Linked DNA regions of Homo sapiens: region 2 is linked to region 1. A link means that fine-mapping ties the variant in region 1 to the expression of a gene that starts in the linked region. Tissue or cell type: monocytes after LPS. Region 1 holds a variant in brackets; the other region holds the start of a gene. All regions are shown on one strand. Distances are from middle to middle.

The links. PIP is the estimated chance that this variant, and not a neighbour inherited with it, causes the effect.
Region 2: it holds the start of NHERF1, and the variant in region 1 is fine-mapped to the expression of NHERF1 in monocytes after LPS (Quach 2016, PIP 0.95).

Annotation. Positions count from the first base shown.
Region 1 is chr17:74,786,787-74,794,886 of GRCh38, reverse strand. It overlaps SLC38A12 (solute carrier family 38 member 12), which reads right to left. Exons shown (of 10, transcript NM_017728.4): 4 at 6,017-6,098; 5 at 4,591-4,687; 6 at 3,851-3,931. Among named protein-coding and RNA genes, the nearest start is that of SLC38A12, 14 kb to the right of the region's middle. The variant C/A (reference allele first, on the strand shown) is at 4,940.
Region 2 is chr17:74,743,695-74,751,794 of GRCh38, reverse strand. NHERF1 (NHERF family PDZ scaffold protein 1) reads right to left here and starts at 3,167. Exons shown (of 6, transcript NM_004252.5): 1 at 2,508-3,167. The coding sequence starts at 2,948. It overlaps RAB37 (RAB37, member RAS oncogene family), which reads right to left. Exons shown (of 9, transcript NM_001006638.3): 6 at 7,422-7,487; 7 at 6,866-6,922; 8 at 6,711-6,787; 9 at 4,460-6,489. The coding sequence ends at 6,384. It overlaps SLC9A3R1-AS1 (SLC9A3R1 antisense RNA 1), which reads left to right and starts at 1,928. Exons shown (of 3, transcript NR_187307.1): 1 at 1,928-2,732; 2 at 2,868-3,222; 3 at 4,252-6,195. MIR3615 (microRNA 3615) reads right to left here and starts at 3,182; the gene lies at 3,096-3,182. RefSeq lists enhancers at 71-612, 2,104-2,729, 4,018-4,613 and a silencer at 2,934-3,623.

The DNA of each region.
Region 1 (8,100 bases):
TTTCTACAAAAAGTGGGAAAATGACCCCAAAGTCCTATTTCTTTTTCTGGCTGGCTACACTGTGATGCTGACAAGAGACAGATCGGCTCATGACTTTCACCTGAGAGGACTCAACGAGGCTGGGAGGATCAGAGAGATTTTGAAGCCAGACAGGTGCACGGTGAGTGTGAGTCTTGGCATGGCTGGGGTGGGAGGAGGGAGGAGAGATGTCCCGAGTCAGGAGCCTGAACCCCAGGTGCGTCTGGGCTGGGGCCCCCTCTGGTGTCAGCCAACACCGGGCTCTAAGACAAGAGATTGCTACTAAAGAGTTGAAGCAAAGAGAAGTTGATGGAAAATAGCCCAGCTCTCTGAAGCTGGGATCCAAAGGGTAAAAAGCCCTGGATTTCCAAAGGCCAACTGTCTCATTCTGAATCTGACTGATCCCAAGCACACGGTGGCCTGGTGTGCTGGGGAGATGGTGCTCAAGACAGGCCCCCTTTCCTTCTTACGGGAAGCACTCCCAAGGGACAATGCTGACTCTGGATGGTGTGTGATACTGACACTTCTGCTGCAGAGGTGACGTTTGTCCCCTCTCACTCCAGCAGGAGGCTGAACGAGAAGTTGGGAACACAGGGCTCTAGTCCTAATTCCATCAGACTTGTTTCAGGACCCCAGTAAGTCCATGAACGTCTCCAAACCCGTAAGGGTGAGAAGAATTCCACCTGGGCCATCTTCCATAAATGATTCCAGCTAGAAAGGCCAGGTGCAAGGGCTCTGAAAAGAGTGGCAGGGCCCTATGACCTAAGGGTTACTGCTCAGACAACCAGTCTCCACCCTTGCTCAGACTGAGGCTCACGTTTTTGATGTCACTGGTCTCAAGCTGCTGGCTTCTCTGAGAACATAAAGAAAAATGAAGTGACAGTTCCCTTTTAATCCTGGTGGCTCAGAAGAGCCTGCAGGGTACCCAACGGAAAGCCTAGGACATGTTATTCCTGGGCCATGTGAGGTCAGCTCTGTTCCTAGGAGCCTGGGGGGGAAAAGACTAAGAAAACGTGATCCTCAAGGGGACCCAAGAGGCCTCGGCACTCACTTTTTGAATATGGCATGTCCTTCCCTGACATGTCAGAGATAGCCTGACGTCCAAGCTTAGTGGCCTCTGGGGTTGGCCTGTCACTCAGGCCCAGGCTCCAGGTACAGCCTGCACTCCAGCTTGTTTTCTGCTCTGAGGGGACGCATTGTCCCCCGCCCCACTCCCAGCCTTTCCTCCACCTGCCAATGGTCTCTGGCATCAGCTCTGTTTATAAACTGCCATTGGCCCTCCCTGGTCAATAAACTTCATTACTAGACACAAAATAAGGGATCAATGAACTTCCTGAGAAGACATCAATGGCTAGGCCCGCATTTCTGATTATAAGAAATGAGCTGGGACCCTAAGGGAGCCTCCTATAGAGGAGGCAGCCCCACCAAGGGTGAAGATGACAATCTGGCAGTCTGTGAATCAGGAATGGAGCACAGCGGAGGTTTTCAGCTGGGGTGATTTTGCCTCCCAGACCCTGCTGGGAACATGTGACAATGTCTGAGGACAGTTTTGACTGTCATAAGTAGGAGGTGCTACTGGCAACCAGCAGGCAGAGGCTAGGGATGCTGCTCAGCACCCTACCACACACAGAACAGGCCCACAAGGAGGAATTCCCCAGCCCAAACATCAACAGGACTGAGCTTGAGAAACTCCAGGGTAGAGGAGACTCCCTTTAAGTGTGAGGCTGGTCTCAGACAATGTCTTTATTTTCCATTAGATTTGGGCAAATTAAGAGTCTAGTCTGTAGTGGGGGGCAAAAAAGGCAAAACTGCTGTTTGCTAGAATTCTTAAAGAAATCAGGGCAGACTGCACAACATGAAAATGAGAAAGGAGGTTTAAAAGCATGCGTCTTCCTTCCAATGTGCACTTTATTTTAAAGCTTGCATTTGGAAGGGGACTTTGCGTTGCTGCCAGGAGGAAACGCTTATGCTTGCTCAGGCTGGTGAGACGGGAGGGATGGAAATGGAACAAAGGAGAAGCACAGATGCGGGCTGAACCTGACCAGTTGGTTTTGCTGAATTCTGAAATCCCTCTGTGAGGCCGGTCCAGCAGGGAGGGTGAACCAGGCCCTAGGGCGGCCTTTGGCTGATAATCACATCGCCCTGCCTAAATGCTTAACGTCCTAAAAAGCAGTCAAAGAGATTCTAGTTCCTACAGTCCCCCCGGCTCTAAGTTAAGTGCAGCCACATTTAAGACTAGAAAGAACTGGTAGGGCAGCCCACTCGACAAACGGGGCTTTGACAAAGGGGCAGAAAATCTTCGAAGACAGTTGCAAGGGGAAGGATGAACTGAGAATGTGACTGACTCTCAATGAAATGGAAATAAACAGGTCTGGGCATTAAAAACTAAACTCTTTTTTCTGGTTTTCTTTTTTTTTTGAGACAAGGTCCTACTCTGCAGCCCAGACTGGAGGGCAGTGGTGTGATCTCGGCTCACTGCAACCTCCGCCTCCCAGGTTCAAGTGATTCTTGTGCTTCAGCCTCTGGAGTAGCTGGGACCACAGGTGTGCACCACCACGCCCAGCTAATTTTCATATTTTTACTTGAGATGGGGTTTCACCATGTTGGCCAGGCTGGTCTCCAACTCCTGGTCTCAAGTGATCCGCCTGCCTCGGCCTCCCAAAGTGCTGGGATTATAGGCATAAGCCACCATGCCTGGCCATTAAATTCTTTTTTTTTTTTTTGAGACGGAGTCTCGCTCTGTAGCCCAGGCTGGAGTGCAGTGGCGCGATCTTGGCTCACTGCAAGCTCCGCCTCCAGGATTCATGCCATTCTCCTGCCTCAGCCTCCCGAGTAGCTGGGACTACAGGCGCCTGCCACCATGCCCGGCTAATTTTTTGTATTTTTAGTAGAGACAGGGTTTCACCGTGTTAGCCAGGATGGTCTCGATCTCCTCACCTCGTGAGCCGCCTGCCTCGGCCTCCCAAAGTGCTGGGATTACAGGAGTTAGCCACCGTGCCCGGCCCACTAAACTCTTAAATAGCTCATCTTCCAAAAGAACCAGATTTGCCATGGAGATATAAGATGTCGCTGGCACACCCAACAACTCAACCCCAGAGTTGGGTGGCTCCCTTATGGTTGCAGCCAGATCCCAGGAAGGAGCAGGTTCACCAGCACACTTCAGGGCTCCGGTCTCACTCAGCAAGCCTGGGTGTGGGCTCCTAGCGCCCTCTGCCGGCCACTGGGAAGCCACGCCCAGGCGTGCGCATAGCAGATTCTAGCGCTGTCAGAAGGTGTTATTCTAGACAGAATCGGCCAGAAGAGGGCAAGGTCAGAGGCAATCAAGCAGGAGGTGCAAAACCATCAACCGGCCTCCATCAACTTCCTTTGCAGGAAAAGGAAAAAGCTTATTTTGTAGCTGCCTCAGGTTCCTGACCTCCACTGGAGTAGCTGCCTGGGGTTCCTGACCCTCACTGGAGTAGCTGCCTGGGGTTCCTGAACCTCACTGGAGTAGCTGCCTGGGGTTCCTGACCTCCGCTGGAGTAGCTGCCTGGGGTTCCTGACCCTCACTGGAGTAGCTGCCTGGGGTTCCTGACCCTGGCTGGAGTAGCTGCCTGGGGTTCCTGACTTCCGCTAGAGAAGCGGCCTCTTTGTTTTTAATGCCCGCAGACAGGGAGGAATCCAGGAAAACAGGTCAGCAAGGTGGCTTCTCAGGTGCTGAGGGAGCAGCTCTACCACCTGCTCTGCCCCATGGTCTGGCTGTCAGGGTGGAGCCCTCATTACAAGGGTGCAGGCCTGCAGGGAAGCACCAGCTCCCCGTTTCCCCACACCCCACCCCCAAAAGAACTTCTACCTTTATTGAAGAACATGGAGGCCATTTGTCCCATTTCCACCCGGTCTGTGATTTCAAACGGGTTGGGAGATCCACGTCTCTCTGCAGAGCCAAAAGAACAAGGAAGAGGAAGTGGTTCTTCACGTGGAGAGCTTCAGAGGGTGGTGAGGACCTCACTGAATTATCTAAACCATGAAATCCCCAAGTGTCCAAACTCGAGAAAACTTTTCCTAATGTTTCCTGCTTGACATGGTTTAACACAGTCTTTTTTTTTTTTTTTTTTTTAAGGGAATTCAGAGATGCTCCTGCTGGGGTGAAAGGGAGAGCAGGCGTCAGAGCCTAACCCAGCCGACCAGGGAGGAGACAGCAAGGCAGGGGCATGTATGAACATGAGGGCACAAGGCAGGAGGAAGAAGAGATGCCACAGAACGACATCTACTTGAGCTTCCAGGGTGCACCAGGCAAGGAACCAGGCATTTAATCATCTCAGTAACAGGAAGGGGTATGGGGGGAAACTGAGGTGCACAGGTCAAGGAACTTACCAAGCTGCAAATCTGAGTAGTGGCCAAGCCAGCAGGGGCCAGGCCTGTGCCCAGGACTGAAACCCTGTGCTCTTTTGAGTCTACCACAGGGCCTGCCTCAGAACCCAGGGGCAGGAAATGCCAGAATCTGCGGGGAGCCTCTCCAGGGCCCTCTCCATGAAGAAAGGGAACCCTGTGGCCCGGAGGGAAGTGCGGGCCCGCGAGAACCCCAAGACTTACGCACAGACAGGATGGGCCGCTTCTCTGCCCGCTCGTAGTTGTCCCGGATGAGAACATCGCTGTCTGAGGCTGTGGAGGAGTCGTCATCTTCCTCCTCCTGGGAGCCAGTAGGATGGACGAGGAGGAGGGAGGAAAACAAGGGAAAAGAAAGGAGCACATCAAAAAAGTACAGAATGTTAGCCAGGTGTGGTGTCATGTGCCTGTAGTCCTAGCTACCTGGGAGGCTGAGATGGGAGGATCACCTGAGCCCAGGAGATCGAGGCTGCAGTGAGCCGTGATTGCAACACTGCACTCCAGCCTGGGTGACAGAGCGAAGACCCTGTCTCAAAAAAACAAAAAAACAAAAAAA[C/A]AAAAAAGAAAGAGAGAAAGGAAAAAAAAAGAGCATGGAACTCTACAGAAAAGCCCTAGGACAATGGCAAACCTGCTTCCTTTTTTTTTTTTTTTTTTTTTTGAGACGAAGTTTTGCTCTTGTTGCCTGGGCTGGAGTGCAATGGTGTGATCTCAACTCACTGCAACCTCTGCCTCCCAGGTTCAAGTGATTCTCCTGCCTCAGCCTCCCGAGTAGCTGAGATTACAGGCACTTGCCACCACGGCCGGCTAATTTTGTATTTTTAGTAGAGATGGGGTTTCACCATGTTAGTCAGGCTGGTCTTGAACTCCTGACCTCAGGTGATCCACCCACCTCGGCCTCCCAAAGTGCTGGGATTGCAGGCATGAGCCACTGTGCCCGGCCTCTTTTTTTTTTTTTTTTTTGAAATGCTTGCCACTTCATGTTATCTCAGTCTGTTGCCCAGGATGGAGTGCAGTGGCACAATCTCAGCTCACTGCAACCTTCACCTCCCCGATTCACGCAATTCTTGTGCCTCAGCCTCCTGAGTAGCTGCGATTACAGGCACACATCATCATGCCAGGCTAATTTTTGCATTTTTAGTAGAGATGAGGTTTCACCATGTTGGCCAGGCTGATCTTGAACTCCTGACTTCAAGTGATCTGCCCGCCTTGGCCTCCCAAAGTGCTGGGATTACAGGTGTGAGCCCCCCCACCGGCCCCTGTGTTCTTTCCTTCTGCAGGGTATCTGTATCTTTAGGAAGCTCTCAGCACAGCTATGCTGCCCCATTAGAGGTGGCAGAGACGCACTCGGGAAGAAGTGACAACACAGTTCCTGGGTACAAAGATTTCAAACAGCTGAGCTGGGTGCGGGTGTGGGTAGGAGGGCCTGAGGCTGAGACGGGAAAGTGGCAGAGGCTCCATTTGTGCTTTAAGATTTAGGTGGCTATTAAGCTTCAGCTCTGGGACTGGGGTCCAGGAGCAGTGCCGTGGACAGAGCCCGCCATGCACTGAGAGGAAAAGAATGGGCTGCTGAGACCGCCTGCTGGGTACCTGACGGAACAGAGGCATGGCCCGGAGACGAGGGCAACACACACACCTTGAGGTTCTCCATCCTCTTCCAGTGGAGCTGCGCGTTGGCTGCAGCCATGGCCTCTATCACAAAGGTGGTGGTCACGAAGCTGAGGGGGCCGAGTGCCCAGCGCCAAAGGCGGACAGGTTGGAGGAGACAGAGAGAGAAGGAAAACACCATTGTAAGAACCGACCAGACCCACCAGCCCAGACCATTCTCTTTTCTGAGAGCTGTTCCCTAGAGATGGGCTTTACTTGGTAAAAAGGTGTGCATGCTTTGACGTTGCTGTCTATAGTGAGAACGTATTTCCGGTGCACGAGAGAGAGAGGTGTGAACTAAGTGATGGGAGGGAAAATAACCAAAGGAGAGAGGGAGCTGGGGGCAGACGTGATACTGGGACAAGCCGTGCTCACACCCAGGAGGGGCTGTTGGGGGCAGACATCAGAGGACGCTCTCAGTGAGGGGAGGCTGGTTCACAAAGGGCCCCCCAGCCTCTGGAAGGACAGCAGGCAGCTTTCACGTCAACCTTGCAAGGACACAGGCGAGTGGTCACCTCCCAATTACATACACTCACGGAAGGAGCGCAGGCATGGATAATTGGAAATGGGTACTTGGCTCCGGAATCCATCCCTTTTTTCTTTGGCAGTACTTTTTACTTTCCAAATAATCTGGCTAATATTAAAATAAGTTTGCACTTCTACGGACCAATTCAAAAGGGAGATTGGGAGGTGGCATTAGACGCTTGCCAAGAAGTCAGACTAGATTGGAAAAATCATCTTTTCTTTTCCTCTTAAAGAAACTTGAGGCCAGGGGCGGTGGCTCATGCCTGTAAACCCAGCACTTTGGGAGGTTGAGGTGGGTGGATCACAAGGTCAGGAGTTCAAGACCAGCCTGGCCAAAATGGTGAAACTTCGTCTGTACTAAAAATACAAAAAAATTAGCTGGGCATGGTGGCACATGCCTGTAATCCCAGCTACTTGGGAGGCTGAGGCAGGAGAATTGCTTGAATCCGGGAGGCAGAAGTTGCAGTGAGCCGAGATCGTGCCACTGCACTCCAGCCTGGGTGACAGAGCGAGATTCTGTCTCAAAAAAAAAAAAAAGGATACTTGAGAGACCTAGATGACAGCTGGAATGCATGAATGCTTTTGTTAACGGAGGATACAGAAGTGGGCTGCCTTCCTGCTAATAAAACCTGAGGTATGAATCCATCTCTGCCGTGGAACAGCATGGGACGAACATTCATCTCCTGCTTTCTTTTTTTTTTTTTTTGAGACGGAGTCTCGCTCTGTCGCCCAGGCCGGACTGCGGACTGCAGTGGCGCAATCTCGGCTCACTGCAAGCTCCGCTTCCCGGGTTCACGCCATTCTCCTGCCTCAGCCTCCCGAGTAGCTGGGACTACAGGCACCCGCCACCGCGCCCGGCTAATTTTTTGTATTTTTAGTAGAGACGGGGTTTCACCTTGTTAGCCAGGATGGTCTCGATCTCCTGACCTCATGATCCACCTGCCTCGGCCTCCCAAAGTGCTGGGATTACAGGTGTGAGCCACCGCGCCCGGCCCATCTCCTGCTTTCTTGAGGCCAGGACAACTCTGCCAGCAGACTCACCCCTGCCTCTCCCTGAGTGTTGACAAGGGTTGGGGGGCTGACTGCTCACCCTGACGTCAGGTGGCAGGAGGCAGAGGGGTCACTTGGCCCCACACCAGTTAAACCCACACTCACTCCCACTCTGGGGGAGCAGCCAGCTCTGAAACCCCCATTCCAATCGCCTCAGCACCTCCTAGAAAGGTTTCTCATTATCTTGCCTAAGTGACCATTTTAAGGGCTTTGGATTTACCCTTCTTTTTGGACGTGAAATTAAAATCAATCTTAATTAAGGCATAAAGAGACTTTTCATGGTTGCGCAAGGCCAACTCATCGATCACGTTCAAACACAAATGGGTTGAGCAAGGAGCGGGGTGTGGTACCCCCTGCCTGGGAGCCCAGAATGATCACTTCCCATTAGATGGCTGCCTGTGCTGAAGGTCCTTTAAAGGGGACAGCGGAGTCATGTAAGGACAAGGACTTCTAGAGCTCTTGGCTGCCAGGGCTCACTGTAGATAATGAACCAATAGT
Region 2 (8,100 bases), 43 kb after region 1:
CGGCACTCTGAACCCAGACTCAAGGGTTTAGGCCTCATCCTGTGACTGGTGGTGAATGGGGGGAGGAGGGCTTTAAGCAGGGGAACAGCAGGGCGGGTCTTGCTGCTCCTCTCTCCCCACGGGGCAGGCGGGGAAGGCCATCCACAAAGCAAAGCCGGTGGGCAGAGCTGGAGAGCCACTTCCACCTCCTTAGGCCTAGACTCCCCAGCGGGGATGGCCAGTGTTACAGGCACCCCTCAGCCTCTGCCCTGAGTGGTTCTGGACACAGCTGGTCTTCCCAGCCAGAGGCCACCCAGCCAACCACTCTCTGCGCCACACTTTTCCACTGATATCATCACTTAGTAAGTGGAGGGCTAATGAAGACAAGGGAACAGCCCCACCTTGCACACAAATTCAGACTAAAACGAATTGGCAAACCTCCATTTGATGCTTTATGTAGGAAACGGGTGTGTTTTAGAAAAACGAACTCTTACAATGTCTGTTAACATTTTTTCTAATAACCACATGGGTGTCTGTATGCTCAACACACAGGATTGAGAGGAGAGGATTTTCTGCTAGAAGGACTCAATGGTGTTGACTAGGAGTCAGTTTAGAGGAGCTGGGATTCAAACGCCAGGCATGAAGGAGTGCAGTTCAGCATTTAGTAAGGGGCTCAAGTGCTTCACGTCATTTCTATAATTCTAGAGAAGGCAGGCATCACATCGCCCAATGCCTCCATCTCACAGATGGGAGAACCAGAACTCAGAAGTCCTGGGACTTGGCTGGTGATGGTGTCCCCAGGATTTGCTGGTGGCTCTCCTCTCATCTCCTGGCCTAACAAAGTACACACAAATGTAGGTGTCCCTCCAAAACATGCAGGAATCTGAGTCTGTGCTCACCCAGGAAGCTCAAAGCTGCTGCCTTTGCGCACGTGTGCTATGCCAGGCCTCCACGTTCGCCTCCCAGGCCCTCTGGCACCCAGCAGCATAACCAAAAGGGCAAAGGGAGGAGCTGAACGAGACTGCAACTTGTGGGGGGTGGGGGTGGGTGGGTATTTGTGTGGGTGCCAAAGTCCAAAAAAAAAAAAAAAAAAGAATGTCAAATCGATCGATGGACTCAGCACAAAGTTCACACTGGATTTCTGCCTGGGACTGGAGATCATCGGCCCCAACTCCCTGGCATCAACCTCCTTGCTCCGGGTGCTCAGATCCCTTCCCCCTCCCCTTGCCAATGCCAGCTTGGCAGGGGCAGGAAGTGGGAGCCTGGTGGCCCTGGCATTCCCAGCACCCAGCTCTGGCTGGACAGGGCTTCTGGTGACCTCACTTCCACCAAACCAGTTGATCCTCTAGGGCTTTGCCTTCTACCTTAATGCCGAACTGTGCCCTTTCTCTGTCCAGGAGGCTCCTCGTAGCCCCACGGACACTCCCATCAGACACTGCCACCAGGGAGAGCTGGTGGTGCAAGCTGAAGGGGTCCTGGGAGGCTCACGCCCTGCCCTACACAATGCACCACTCCACTCTCTGGGGACAGGAGGCTCAGCACAACTCCTATTTTGCCAGCTGCCCCTCTTGCAGCTGATCCAAACTGGGATCCCATGGGCAAACACCAAACATGGGCAAAAAGCAACCGGCCTGCTGGCTGTGTGGGCACCAGAGTGACCATGGCAAGGCCAGGGCAAGACCACCGGCTCACCGTGAGCTCCGCTGGCGCACACAGGGCCGTGAGCCCCAGGAGCTCTCTCTCCTCCCCATGGCCATCTTTTTCTTCTTCCAAGGTCTTTCCCCTTCCCTCCCAGATACAGTTCTAGGCGCTTACTCTTCACATTCCTGAGAATCGTAAATCCTCTGAGGTGGCAGAACCACCACTCCGAGATGCCTTGGCTCCTCCTCCCTGCCAGGCAACCCCCACACCGCCCTGAGATGGTGGGGCTTCCTCTCCCTTAGAAGTCACACAGGACTCCGGGAGGATGAAGTCCAGCAGGACTGAAGTTCAGGACACACACCGGCGGGCTGCGGAGAGGGCCTCCTCGCGCCGGGGCTCCACACAGGAGGAGTAATGCTATTCCTCTAGCTTTTGAAGTAGGAGTGGCGGGCGAAGCTGGCACCTCTGGGGCGGAGAGCCCTTTCTCCCCGGCCCATCTGCGGACTGGGGTGAACGAGGAGAGGGCACCAGGGAAGGAGCAGGATTGGGGGATTCCGAGGAACGGGAGCAGACACCCACAGACCCGAGGGAAGGGGGCTGGGTTCCCCTGCGCCGCCCTCCCAAAGGCCAGGGAACAAGAGGTGCAGGCGGCAAAGGCGCTCAAGCTCCCAGCACAGCCTGGGAAGGAGAGGAGGTCGCGGGACGCAGCCCCAGGCCTGCCTAGGATGTGTCAGGGCGCCTGGTCGGCGGGCGGAAGCGGTCTCCCCCTCGCAGCTCGAGTTTCAGAAAAACGACGGCGGGCGCGGGGCTGGACGGCCGGGGCACCTGGGTCTCTCCGGATCCTCCTCCCACTCCATGCCAGCCTGCGCGGCTTGGGCCCCGCTTACCTGCTCCGGGTGGCTCTTGTCGGCCTCGCGAGGCTCATTTTCGTTGCCAGCCCCCTGCACCTCGGCGGCGGCCGGCGGCTCGGCCTGCCCCGGCGCTTCCTGGGCGCGCAGCAGCTCCTCTCGGACCTGGACGCCGAGCTTCTGCAGCTGCTCGTCCGTCTCGGGGTCGACCACCAGCAGGCGCACGGCGTTGAGTGCGGCGCGGATGCGGCTCACCACCTGCTGGTGGGTCTCCTTCTCCACGTTTTCGCCGTTCACCTCCACCAGCCGGTCCCCCGCCAGCAGCCCCGCCTTCTCGGCCGGCGAGCCGGGCTCCACCAGCCGGATGTACTGGCCCAACTTGCCCTTCTCCCCGTGCAGGTGGAAGCCGTAGCCGTTCGGACCCTTCTCCAGGCAGCAGAGCCGGGGCAGGGGCGCCCCGGCCGCTGCGTCCGCGCTCATCTCGCCCTGCGACGGGTCAGCGGCGCGACTTGGGGTTCCGATGGGGACGGGACGGGACGGCCCAGCCCTTCTTCCCGTCCAGCGAACCGGGAGCGCAGCAGAGAAGCCCTGAGCCGCCGGACGGGCCAAGCAAGCAGGTGTCCCAGGAACCGTCGGCCGCCGCGAGCCGCGAGGAGCCGAGAGAGGACCACAGACCAATCCCCGCCCCGCGCGGCGTCTGAGCGTCCCAGAGTCCGCCCCGGCTCCTTACCCCGGGGGCGGGGCCGCGCTGAGGGTGGGGACCTCCGCGGGCCAATAGGGGGCTGCAGGCCTGGGCGCTCCGGCCGGGTGAACGGCGCCGGCCATTGGGAACGCGCGGGGCGGGGCCTGCGCTCGGCGCGGCGCCCCGCGGCGGGCGAAGACTAGCGCTCAGGAAGTGGAAGTGTTTGTTACCGAGCGGCCGGCGCTGGGGTGGCAGGGGCGGGGCTCGCCGAATTCCCGGTTCTGGGCGGGTGGGCCCGCCGGCTCCGGCCTGGTTTCCCCTACCTGTGGCGGGGAGTGAGGAAAGCCGGCCCTCGGGTAAAGGACCCTAACTTTTTTTTTTTTTTTTGAGACGGAGTCTCGCTCTGTCGCCCAGGCTGGACTGCCGTGGCGCGATCTCGGATCACTGCAACCTCCGCCTCCCGGGTTCAAGCGATTCCCCTGCCTCAGCCTCCCGAGCAGCTGGGGTTACAGGCGCGCACCACCACGCCCCGCTAATTTTTGTATTTTTAGTAGAGACGAAATTTCGCCATGTTGGCCAGGATGGTTTCAAACTCCTGACCTCAGGTGATCCGCCCTGGGATTACAGACGTGAGCCACCGCACCTGGCCAACGTTTTAACAGCCTTTAGCCAAAGCCTGGGTGCAGCTCCAGTTGAGAGGGAGCGGCTGTTGCCGGGGCAACTGCTCCCGCTCGGGGCAGCGAGGGCCGGTCAGTCTCGAGAATTAAGACGGAGGGCCTCCTCGGACCCTACAGAGTTGTTTGAATAACATTTTTCCGTTTGTGGGAACCCTAACCCTAATCCACTTTGTGCTGTCCCAGGACTCGCATAGAGGAGTGCAGGTTCTGATCCCTGCTGGGAAGGTGAGGGCTCCGCGGAGAGCCTGGGACCTCGAGGGGCAGCCCGCTGAAGACAGGCCATCTAGGGCAATAGCGTGGGCTTTGGCAGCAGCGTTTGGCTAGGGAGGTGGGGTGGGGAGAGGCAGGACAGACTCAGGTAATCAACCTCTGGGTACACGCCACAGGGAAAGGAGCCTTGGTTTTTTTTTTTTTTTTCCAACAGAAAAATGATTAGGACTGTAAAGCCTTCTAGCTCCCTCTTGCCAAAGAGAGGCTGGTCACAGAGGCGGGAGACAGTCTGTTGAGCGGGGAGCTGACCATCTGAGGACAGACACTGAGGAAGGAGGATGGAATGATTTTGGCAGTGAATGACAATTCCTTCAACAAGACCCCCCCCCCCCACTCACTTCAAAGAAACAGTGGACAGGATGTGCTTTCCAAAATACTGCAGTTTAATTCTGAAAAACTCAAATGCAAGAGGCCCAGAGCTGTCTATGGGATTGGATCTCCTGCAACCTGCCTTGGGCCCCAGAAGAGACTGGCAATGTCAGCCTCCTCCCTGCTCTGCCTGAGGGAGGCCACGGAGAACTTCCTTATCGGGCCCAAACTGGAGCCGCTGACTGCTCAGAGCAAGATTTCTGCCTTGAAAGCAAATGCAGTAGCCTCAGAAATGTGCAGCGCATACTTCTTCCTCCCCCTCTCCCCCTCCAGGCCGGCAGAGCTGCAGTAAAGATGCCTGCAGGTCATGACCTCATGTTTCCTGTCCACTTCCCATGGCAGGGATCGGAGCTTTGGGAGATATGTGACCAAGGAGGACACATGAACTTGCTACCCCTCTCTCTACCCCAGACATACCCACATGACTTTGTTTTACTCATATTGCATTGGTTTAACTCGGAAATGGGTGACCTCCCACCACCTAACCTGACTCAGTAGGAGGGGAGGTAAAGCAGTTTAGGCCCTGGTATCTGTTTGAGAAGTTAAAGGAAAGGGCATGGGTGGTCAGGGAGGAGGCAGAGCTTGGGGTCAAAGGGATACATGTCAGGGGAGGTTTGCTTAATCTTGTCTCCCACCAGCTCCAGGAGCCAGGGATTTCTCTTTTTTTTCACAACACATTCCAAACCTAGGAAAGGGATTTCTCCTTATCTGGCTCTTAACCCAGGAGGGCTAAACACTTCAGCTGCTTGAAGAAATCGCCTGTGGAGCTGCATGCCTGCCAAAGGATTGGGATAAGACACATCTAGCCTGGGCATGGTGCCTTCTGCGTGTAATCCCAGTACTTTGGGAGGCCGAGGCCGGCAGGTTGCTTGAGCTCAGGAATTCAAGACCAGCCTGGGCAACATGGCGAAACCCTGTGTCTACAAAAAATACAAAAATTAGCCAGGTGTGATGGTACACACCTATAGTCCCAGCTACTTCGGCGGCTGAGGTGGGAGGATCGCTTGAGCCCCAGGGAGTGGAGGTTGTAGTGAGCGGAGATTGCACTACTGCACCTCAGCCTGGGCGACAGAACGAGACTCCATTTCAAAAAAATAAAAACAAAACTCTTTTCCTAGTTCTGACCTGAGGTTTTTAGGTGCACAGGCAGGAAGGTAGCTAAGCCAGGGATTCAGGGGGGGGAGGGGCTCCCCCAGGATCTGAAGTCCAGAGAACAGGAGCCTGGAACCAATATTTCCAGGTGCCCCAATGTGCTTGTGTGCTGGAGAAAAGGGGCATGCCTCCAGGGGGGTGTTAGTAAGGCCAGAGATAGCCAGCTAGACCCTACTCTCTGCCCCTTGTCCTCCCCCTCCCATCTCCATATCTCTTATCTTCCCTGAGGCTTTGGTCTTCCTCACAGCACAAGGGCCCACTTATTTGGGAGATGGGGCGAAGATAAGCTCCTGGAGAGCGGGAGACAGTGAAGGCTGGGGTCACCTGAGCCTCTGTCCAGCTGAACTGAGGGTGCGATGGAGTCATTACCTGCCCTCACCCCCAAAGTGCATCTGTGTCCCCTGGGGCTGAGCTGGAGCAACACCACCTTTGTTATGCTTAGGAGGGAGGGCCGGCCCCCCAAGTCCTAGAAAGCAAAAGGGCCACTAGCTCCCAGCCTCGGTTTTTTGGGGATCCAGGCGCCTTTTTTGGTATTAAATTATGTACTATTAAAATAAAAGCTAAGTGTTTTACCCTCCCTGTGGATGCGGGGAGACCGCAGGAACTCAAGTAGGAGTTGGAGTATAGCTCCCTGCTAGGAAGCGGCTGTGCAGTGAGTCCTCCATCTTTCTCCCCATTGGCTCAGCCTCTTGGAATAAGCCAGGCCTGGGAGGGGGAAGGCTGCATCCTGTGTGCCTCCAGAGCCTCCTCTCTGCCCCCTGGGATTCACATGAAGGAGCAGCAGCTGGAGCGCTTCTTCTGGGACTCTACATAGTCTCGGATCTGGAAGCTGGGCTCATCCGCCTGATGCCCGGCCCGGTATTTCAGTTCCCTTGAAGAAGAGACAATGGGCTGGGCTGGGCTGGGCTGGGCTGGGGTGAGGAGCTGAGCCGCCCCCTCCCCTCTCCCAGTGGCCCAGTGCTCCCAGAGCAAATGGACCTCAGCCTGCAGAATGCAGGTGTGTCCAGGGGCTGGGCCAGGGGCCGGGCCCTACTGGATTCCTGGAGTGTGCCGCCCTGCCCCGCACACTTCCCTTCCCTGCCCAGCTCTCACTTGGCGATGGCCAGAAAGGCTAACTCCACATTCATGCCAGTCTTGGCGCTGGTCTCCAGGAAGGGAACACCGTACTCCTGCCCGGGAGAGAGTGTCCTCAGGGCCAGCGTCGGGTTGCCCCCACCCTTCACCCTGTCCCACAGACAATCACTTACCCTGGCCAAGGTCTCTCCGTCTTCGGAACGGATCACTCTTTCGCTGCTCATATCCGCCTGTCAAGCCCAAATGGGTCACTCTGGGGAAGGAGGCCTCCGCCCCAGCGGGCCCATATTTTGCCCCAGAAGCAGGCGTTGCCTGCCCTCTGCTGGTGGCCCAAGGGACTGCAGGCAGGTGTGATTGGCCTGGGGCCAGGGTTTCTGCCCAGTGTAGCTCCCAGCTCTGGGATCTCACCTTTGGTAAAGGGTCTTGGAATAGGACAGCAGTTGGGGCTAACCCTTTGCACTCTTAGCCCCTGACCTGGGACCCTGTTCACTCTGCTCTAATGGGGGCTGAGAACTGGGCACCCCTTGATTTCTCAGGCAACAACTTGGACTTTCCCTGGAAGGGGCAGATGGGATGGGCAGAAGCCTCCAGATATGTCTGACCCCTGAGCTGGAGGCTGCAGAGTCCTTTTCAGGAAGGATGCCTAGATAACTGTTCTTGGGTGGTTATGGGGCCGGCTAGGGCTGAGGAAGTGCAGGGCTGGGCTGACCCTGCCCCGGAGCCACTCACCTTGTTGCCTAGCAGCATGATCACCACGTCCCTCTGGGCATACTCATGAATCTCAGTGAGCCAGGCCTGTGGGAGAGGGCGTGCGAGACTGGCATTCTCTTCCTCCTGCTGCCCCTTTCTTCTTCTGCTCCGTTTGACTATCCTCAGTTACTCACTACCTTGAACACGATACCCTGTGCGTTCTCTCATCTGTACCTTTGTTCTGGCCCATCCAGGCCTGGATGGCCTTCCTTGGTGGCTCAACCCACAATGGCCCCACCCTCACCATTTTATGCTGTGCAACTATCAGTTCTATGGAAGATCCAGATGCATGGAGACCTTATCTCACAAATCAGTTGGCTGTCAGCAGTGATTTCTTGGAGTGTCCTGTTAAAGATTCTAAGACCACATAAGGGTTTCAGTGATCAAAAGTACTGTGATTGATTAGTGATGTCTGCCATGAGCATGGGGTTGGAGGTAGGAGTATGAGTGCCATGGATTTTCCTCTTTCTATATAAACGTTTTATTCTCCTAGTTTGCTTATCAGCAAACTGTCCTTGAGGTCAGGGGATTCATGAAACCTATACAATGTCGTGAACAAAATTGGTGCTTGAATTTATCAAATTTTTGTCTCTATAATAGTTTGGTTGTGAGGATACAACCACTCACTCTGTCTGACTGAGTCACTTTCTTGCAACTT